Homo sapiens: one gene and its partner. The protein of the gene in region 2 interacts with the protein of the main gene of each other region in a pairwise test. Each region holds a gene or a part of one and is shown on either strand. Other genes may lie near its edges. The genes, in order: ZNF76 and FCRL4.

Region 1 (3,500 bases), on a different chromosome or scaffold from region 2:
GATAAAGACCAAAATCCTCACCCTGACACTCAAACCCAGAGTGCACCAGCCCTGTCTTTCTCTCTCCAGTTTCCTCCTGCTCATTCTGCCTTCACTCCCAGGGCTCTAGCTCCTAGCAGTTCCTGGAATGTGCTGTTCTTTCTTCCCCCCAGCTCTAGGCCTGCACATGCTATTCCTTCTGCCTGAAGTACTGAACCCTCCCTGCCATCCCTCTTCCCCCAGCTAAGTCTACCTCATTCTTTACCTCTCAGCTCAAGCATCACTACCTCAGAGAAGCCCTCCCTGAGCCTGATCTCTGTTTGTAATGATCAGTTCATCACTGATGGCTTGTTTCACTTCTGTTTCCCCCTCTAGACTCTAGGAGAGCGGGGACTGTGTCTGACTTTGTTCTGTCTTGTATACTGCACACCTAACACAACGCCAGGCATGCAACAGTCACTCAAGAAACCACCTGCGGAAGGAATAAATTGTTATTCTTCAGCACCTTAGGAGCTTCATTCTAAAATATTAGTTTTTTTTCCTGGTCTTGGATGATATCCTCGGGTCCTATTTAAAGCCCTAAGACTTTGTGGCTGTGCTGGAGCCAAGGCCACCATCAAAGTCCACGTCACTGATCTCCAAGGCTCACCTCCCAGTTGCAGACATAGCTGCTCCTGTGGTCTGCACCAGGGAAGGTGGGCAAGGCTGCTAATCCAGGTGAGCATGTGTGTACCATGGAGATGACAGCTCCCATGTCTACACCCCAGTTGTGTGCCATCCCATCCTCCAGTCCTGCCACCCCATCCTCCAGTCCTGCCTCCCATCCTTCCCCGAGTTGTGATGATGGTGACCCTACCTCTGGGTGTGCGGTGTATGTAAGCCATGCTGCCATCTTCCAGCTGCACAGGCTGACCATCCTCAAAGGAGAGAGCTTCTGTAACGAGAGCAATGCCTGCCTTTCCCTGGAGCTCAGTGCCATGGAGGGGTCCCTTGGTGGGGGCTGTCAGGCTTCCCTCGACAAGGCATGGTGTGTTGGGGTGCCCTCACCTTTCTGTACCGTCACCTGGTGAATGTATGCGGTGGTCCCATCCTCGAGCTGGATCACCTGCCCTTCAAGAAGCTTCTCTCCTGTTAAGAGTGGAAATAGAGAGAAATGGGCCAGGACCAGAAGAGGGCTAAGAAACGCCTGCCTGTTTTTAGCTGAGGCTTATTTGAGTCTCTAGGCACGAGCCTGCAGGTCTAAGCATGGGTAACATCTTCCTTGTTCCCTTGCTCTGTCTCCCTGGGCCTGGGCCTTGAGACACTAAGGGTGAAGACACTTGCCTTGCCGAACCCATCACCTCCCAACAGATTCCCTTCCAGTTACTAACAGGAGGAATAACTTCACTTATTATTCTACCCATGCCCAGCCAAGTGGAAACTTCCAACCTAATAGTAAGTTGCTGAGACTTGAACTAATGGCCCTTAAACCTGGATGAGCCCCAGTGGGTCAAAATTCAGATATAGCTCAAACTAACAAAATCAAAACATATCCCCTCATCCCTCACTATGACAGTGTGCTAAGACCAGGAGCCCCTGTGAAGGCAGGATATATAGCTTAATGGTTAAAAACAATAGACTCTGGAACCAGGCCAGGCCTCCAGAGTTTGAATTCCAGCTCTACCTCTTAACAGCTGTGTGACCTTGGACAGCTTATTTAACTAACCTCTCTGTGCCTCAGTTTCCTTTTCTTAAAATGGGGATTGAAAACTGTGTCTCTTATAGGGTTGCTGTTAGGGTTAAATGAGTTAACGAATATAAAAAACTGGGAAGAGTGCCAGGTATATATGGTCAGCCCTCAATAAATCCTAGCTTTTATTATAAGCCCAATATGCATTTTAGAAGAAATGGAAAGTAAAGCAATAGAGAACTATGTGAGCACAACTATTATGCTATTATGTGTCCATGAAGGTCTTATTCCACTGCCACTGTTGAGTAATGTTCCTTCATTGACCTCTCATTTTTCATTTCAATTTTCTAGTAAAAAATTAGATCACCTAAGGCAACACAACAAGCAGCATAAAAATTAACAAGCCTCCAGATTTCCTAAGATATTACTCTTCCTTTACCTTACTGGAAAGCACTTCTAATAAGGCTCTTGAAATTAGAACTAGACGACCCTTCCTTGTGTCCAGTGAGTCTGACAGAGGGGGAAGGAAGAAGAGAAATGAGAAAGGAAAGAAAGGGAGATTGAAGAGTTAATGATGGTCAGATTCGGTGGCTCATGCCTATAATCCCAACACTTTGGGAGGCCAAGGCGGGTGGATCGCTTGAGCTCAGGAGTTTGAGACCAGCCTGAGCTATGTGACAAAACCCTGTCTCTACAAAAAACACAAAAATTAACTGGATGTAGTAGTGCATGCCTGTGGTCCCAGTTACTCGGGAGGCTGAGGTGGGAGGATTGCTTGAGCCCAGGAGGCAGAAGTTGCAGTAAGCCGTGATTATGCCACTGCAGTCCAGCCTGGGTGACAGAGTAAGACCCTGTCTGAAAAAAATAAAAAATAAATAAATAAAAAGGCTGGGCACGGTGGCTTACATCTGTAATCCCAGCACTTTGGGAGGCCAAGGCGAGCAGATCACCTGAGGTCAGGAGTTTGAGACCAGCCTAACCAACATGGTGAAACCCTGTCTCTACTAAAAATACAAAAAAATTAGCTGGGTGTGGAGGCAGGTACCTGTCGTCCCAGCTACTCGGAAGGCTGAGGCAGGAGAATCACTTGAACCCGGGAGGCGGAGGTTGCAGTGAGCTGAGATTGTACCACTGCACTCTAGCCTGGGTGACAGAGTGAGGTCCTGTCTCAAAAAGAAAAAACAAAAAAGTAAGGCTGGGTGTGGTGGCTCACACTTATAATCCCAGCACTTTGGGAGGCTGAGGCAGGCGGATAACCTGAGGTCGGGAGTTCGAGACCAGTCTAGCCAACATCATGAAACCGTGTCTCTACTAAAAATACAAAAAAATTAACCAGGCGTGATGGCACATGCCTATAGTCCCAGCTACTCGGGAGGCTGAGGCAGGAGAATCGCTTGAACCCGGGAGGCGAAGGTTGCAGTGAGCCGAGATCACGCCACTGCACTCCAGCCTGGGCTACAGGGTGAGACTCCGTCTCAAAAAAAAAAAGGAAGAAAAAATAAAAAAAAAGTTAATGACAAGTGATTTGTCCTTTCCTTAGAAGATTGAGGTTTAGGAAACTGAGCGCTCAGGTGGGAAAGACAGTTACTTCCAGCCCAAGTCTCTGCTGACGTCTCCCCTTTAGAGGAATCCCCAAACTTGCTCCCAAACTGAGTCTTCTTGGGGTCAGTAACTAACAGTCCTACAACTAACCAAAGGCAGGTAAGGTGGAGATAAAGGTAAGAAATAGGAAAGGCAGCTGAGATGGGGGGAAGATGAACCCATTTTCTTCCCTCCCACCCACAGAGCAGTAGGCTACCCTCATTTTAACAATTTATCTGTCCTGGCAAGGGCATCAGTACTTGGGGTTCTG
Region 2 (4,487 bases):
ACCACAACCGGCTAATTTTTTGTATTTTCAGTAGAGATGAGGTTTCACCATGTTGTCCAGGCTGGTCTTGAGCTCCTGACGTCAAGTGATCCACCCACCTCAGCCTCCCGAAGTGCTGGGATTACAGGCATGAGCCACTGTGCCCAGCCTCTGCAGACACTTTTTAAAAAGAAAATTCTGTCTTTAAAGGTTTGGACAGAATACTCTATGTCATCAGTGGGAATGGGGCTGTGTTTCTGCTGAAGAGAATAGAAAACCCTACCAGCTATATTCCTGGGAAGCACCTGGATGCAGGGCCATTGGGACTTAGGCAATAGGTCTTCTACTGGAGGGAAGGAGAGTTGATTTCCTTTGATGTATGCAACTAGACTCTTCTTTGCTCTGAGGAAGCTGCCCCTGCTATGTGCAGGTGGCCCTATGGCCAGGAAGGGACATAACTTTTCATGGCCTTCGTGTGTTTGAGACTGAGTTGATGGGCTCTGAGGTTAACCACATCCCTAGCTGCAGTTAATTCAAGGCACTTTTTGTATTTCATTTCCCCATTCTAGAACCATTAGCAAAGTCTGCCAAGTTATAATCTTGTCTCAGGAAGGGTGTGTGGGAAATAGTCTGTGTCCAAGGCACCGAGGAGGGGAAGAACAGCAGAGTTAGGAGCTGCAAGAGACAGTGCACCTCAAGGGGGCCAAGGCCCTTGCTGGCTCCAGCAGCTCCTAGGGTGCTCTATAGGAATGGCCAAAACACCTGTGAGGCAGCTGCCTATAGAGGATGGGACTTTTTGCTGACCAGTAGGATAGATGGAGACTCAGAGTCATCATAATTTGAGCTATTAACAGAGAAGTGTGTCTCCATGGGATGCAGAAGTTGGGGATAAATTTGTTACACATGGTTAGTGGAAAAGCTGCTGGAGCCCCAGCCTCCCCCTCTGAAGTATTGGCTTATTTCTACCCTTTTCCTCTTGGGATGCTATGCATTCCATCAGGCTTGGCTAGAATCCCACATCAGGCGGGGTGACAGCTCCTCTTCCTGTGGACGCTGTGACACATATCCCAGGCCCTGCCATGTTTAGCCAGCACAATGGCAGTTTTGGTTTAAGAGAGTCACCCCCAAATAGCCTGGTTCTTAGGGTCAGAGTCACCACACGAGCTGATGTCTCTACATCCCTGCAGCACTCAGGAAAAGGATGAAATGGACAACAGGGACTCTTGTAAGTATTTGAGATAAAATATAGTTATTAGGGTATCTAGAGACATAAAGGAGCAAAGAAAATAAGGACTTACCAGATTGTCCACAGACTGGAGCTGAAAGAGAGTAAAGAGCCAGCCATCAGCGTAGGCGAAGAGTCCCGAACTATTCACCCTGAGAGCCCATACACTCATATGCTACTTCCAACCAAGAGGAAGAGAAACACGTTCCATTCCATCCATCCCAGGGAAGCGGGGAAACACAGTGGCCAGACGCTCAGGCTGTGGACTCAGACAGTCTGGTTTGAATTTTAGCTGTATGACCCAGGGCAAACCACATGAACTTTCAAGTCTCAGTTTTCTCATTTGAAAAATGAGGCTCATGAAAGCGACCTCATAGTAATACTGTAATGAGTTAGATCAGTAAGGTTTCAATTAATGGCTGCTGTCATTAATTTTTTAGTATGGGGCTGCTGCTGATTCCTCTTCTCTTGACTCAGAACACTTATTATCATAGCTAATTTGGAACTCAAAATGAGACAGACAGTAGAGGGTAGTAGTTAAAAGCCTAGTTTCCAAAGTTAGATTATGGGTTCGAATCCTGACTCTGCCACTGTACTAGCTGCATAAACCTCAGGGACAAGACCAACATCTTTGTGCCTTCATTTCCTCATTTGTAAATGGGAGTTATAAAAGTTCCACCTGATCAAATGTTAGAGAATTGGATACATTTATACATGGGGTGCCCTTAGAAAAGTGGGATGTAGCCAGGGCTTAGCACAAATTAACTGACATCCTCACACATTATCCTGTAACTATTTGTGTAATATTTTTCTCATATTGTCGAGTCAGATGTTCTTGCATGTGTACGTTGAGGTTCTATTGAGAATGTCACCTCTTGAGGGCAGAATCTGTGTCCTTCAGGTCTCTGCATCCTCTGTGGTGCCCAGCAGTGTGGCATGCCAAGTATACCCATCCACTCACTCCTTAGTTCCTATCATGTGCCAATCACACTAATAGGTCTTCCCTTAGTTGGGGTCTGGGGATCAGGTGGGAACTAGACAAATACGCTTAATAAATATTTAATGAACAAAAGACTGACTGTTCTTTAATTCCCTAGTTTGAGCAACTAGGAAATCCGTGCCTCATTTGGACAAACACTGACAAGTGGTACAAAAGCAGGAAGAAAAAAATCAAAGGGAAATCATCTTATCTCTTCTCTTCTCATGCTCTTTGCAAACATCAGAACAGGTTTGAACTTAGAATACAGAGAAGGAAATAACTATTCTCAGCAGGTGATCCTTTCTACCTGAGTTCACAATCAGGACTTTATCCTTCACAAATAACTCAGTCCATCTTTTCCTCTGGGTCCTCATGCTCTGTGACGTAGGGACTGAACCTAGCCATAGGTTTCTTTTTGCATAAACAAAATAAGTCCATTTGGGGGTAAAATGATTTTCCATAGGCAATTCATAGCAAAAATAGATGAGAAATACATCTTTGGAAATCAATTATTATCATTTTCCCCTTCTACCAGTAAATCATTATCTTTCCTTTTTGTTCATTTTCTGCTGTTCTAAAATGGGAGTAAAAATCCATGATTGCAGCAGCAGAAAAGAGGGCTTTTGCTCATGGTGAGGCTCAGCTTTGCAGCAAGCAAAGGTCTCCTCCCCATCACTTACCAAAGGCCAGCAAGGACGCCCACAGCAGCATGGAAGCCTGCTCCAGGATTGGAGAAGGAGTTCTGAGGAGACAAGCCAGGTCAGCCCAGATTGCCAAAGCAGCACTTGCCTACACCAGCACCAGCAGTGAGCTCAGTAAGCTTCTTCTCTGCATAAAGCTGATTGAGATAATGAAGTGAAAGGGGGAAGTAGAGGAATCTTTCTGAAAACACCAAACAGCAATGTGGACCAGTGTGAGAGAATCCAGACCACAAAAATCAAAATTTAATAGAATTAAGTACTGCTGTGACATCCTGGGGTGAATCACTTCTCAAGGCTAAAGCTACTCTAGTTTCAGAACTCTCTAGGCTCTGTCTTTCAAGGAAATCACAACCTATTCTCTCTGCTACTAGAGATGAGGTGAGATTGCAGGCCTATTGAAATCCACATAATCTAAGGATGTCCCTGAATATCCCCAGAGATGAAGAATTTCTCATTCAACACAGAAAAGGCCTCCTCTGACCGCTGATACCTCTACTGGAACACCTCCAGCAGGCCGTCTGTAGACCTGATGAAACATCTCAATCACAAGACAACTCTCACCTTGTCTGATATATATGAAAATATCCTGACTCATCAGTCCAGGGGGAAACCACAACTTTTGATCTGAGTAGAAGGCAAGCTGAGGAGTAAATTATAGCCCCATCATGCTCTTCCTAGATAATAGGCCATAACATTTTTACTTAATGTCCTAGAATCCAAAATTTGCTACAGGAATGTCTTGGCAAATATATATTGATTGAAATACATATGCCTGGTATCTGGTGGCAGAGAGAAGAAGTTGTGATTTCCTTGAAAGACAAGAGGCTAGAGAGTTCTGAAAATATGATGGCTTTAGCCTTGAGAAGCGATTCACGTCAGGAAGTCAGAGTGGGTATTTAAATAATTCTATTAAATTTTGATTTTTGCCATTTGGATTCTTTCACACTGGGCAACATGCTGTTTGGTGTTTTGAGAAACACCTAATGCTCTCCCTACCCATAACAAACCTGCACACTCTGCTCATGTATCCCAGAACTTAAAAAAAAAATTAAGAAAAAAATGGAAAAATCCGTAGTGACGTTTTTTGGTACGTATAATATTTTGGTATGTATAACTCTTTAAAACTTTTTTATGCTATTATCTTGTGTATATGTATGTGTATATATATATATATATATATATATATATATATATATATATATAAAATGTTAATGGCAAAAAAAAAGAAACACCATGGTGCTTCAGGTATGGTGCCAGGTGCTGGAAGTACAGTGTTAATCAAGACTTGGAAAGCTTTCATTCTGGTGGAGAAGACAGCAAGTCAACAGGAAATTACATAGAAGTGAATTGTATGTAATTTCTGAGAGTCCACTAAGAGGGAAATCTGACCCAGTTCTGGGGATGCATAAGAGGCTTCCCTGAGGAAGTAACATCCAAGCTGAAAGAATATCATTCTAGGACTGAGAGATGAGCATGCACTAAGATGGAAGGCAGTTATCGTGACCATCACCATCACATCAAGATATCTGTGAATAGATAATAGACATAGGATGGATTAAGAGTGGTCTGTATTTTTCTAATATAATGTTTTTCTATATATCTG

The links.
Region 1: the proteins of FCRL4 (region 2) and ZNF76 interact in binary tests that used the Homo sapiens proteins (3 or more experiments, as listed by UniProt).

What each region holds. Positions count from the first base shown.
Region 1 is NC_000006.12:35,283,735-35,287,234, reverse strand, and holds part of ZNF76 (zinc finger protein 76), read right to left. Parts: intron 1,110-3,500; exon of another isoform or gene 1,108-1,109; coding exon 1,027-1,107; intron 914-1,026; coding exon 836-913; intron 805-835; exon of another isoform or gene 261-804; coding exon of another isoform or gene 245-260; intron 1-244. UniProt on the Homo sapiens protein: May be involved in transcriptional regulation.
Region 2 is NC_000001.11:157,595,051-157,599,537, forward strand, and holds the start of FCRL4 (Fc receptor-like protein 4 precursor), read right to left. Parts: upstream 3,036-4,487; 5' UTR 2,895-3,035; coding exon 2,864-2,894; intron 1,299-2,863; coding exon 1,278-1,298; intron 1-1,277. UniProt on the Homo sapiens protein: May function as an inhibitor of the B-cell receptor signaling. May function in the B-cell-mediated immune response.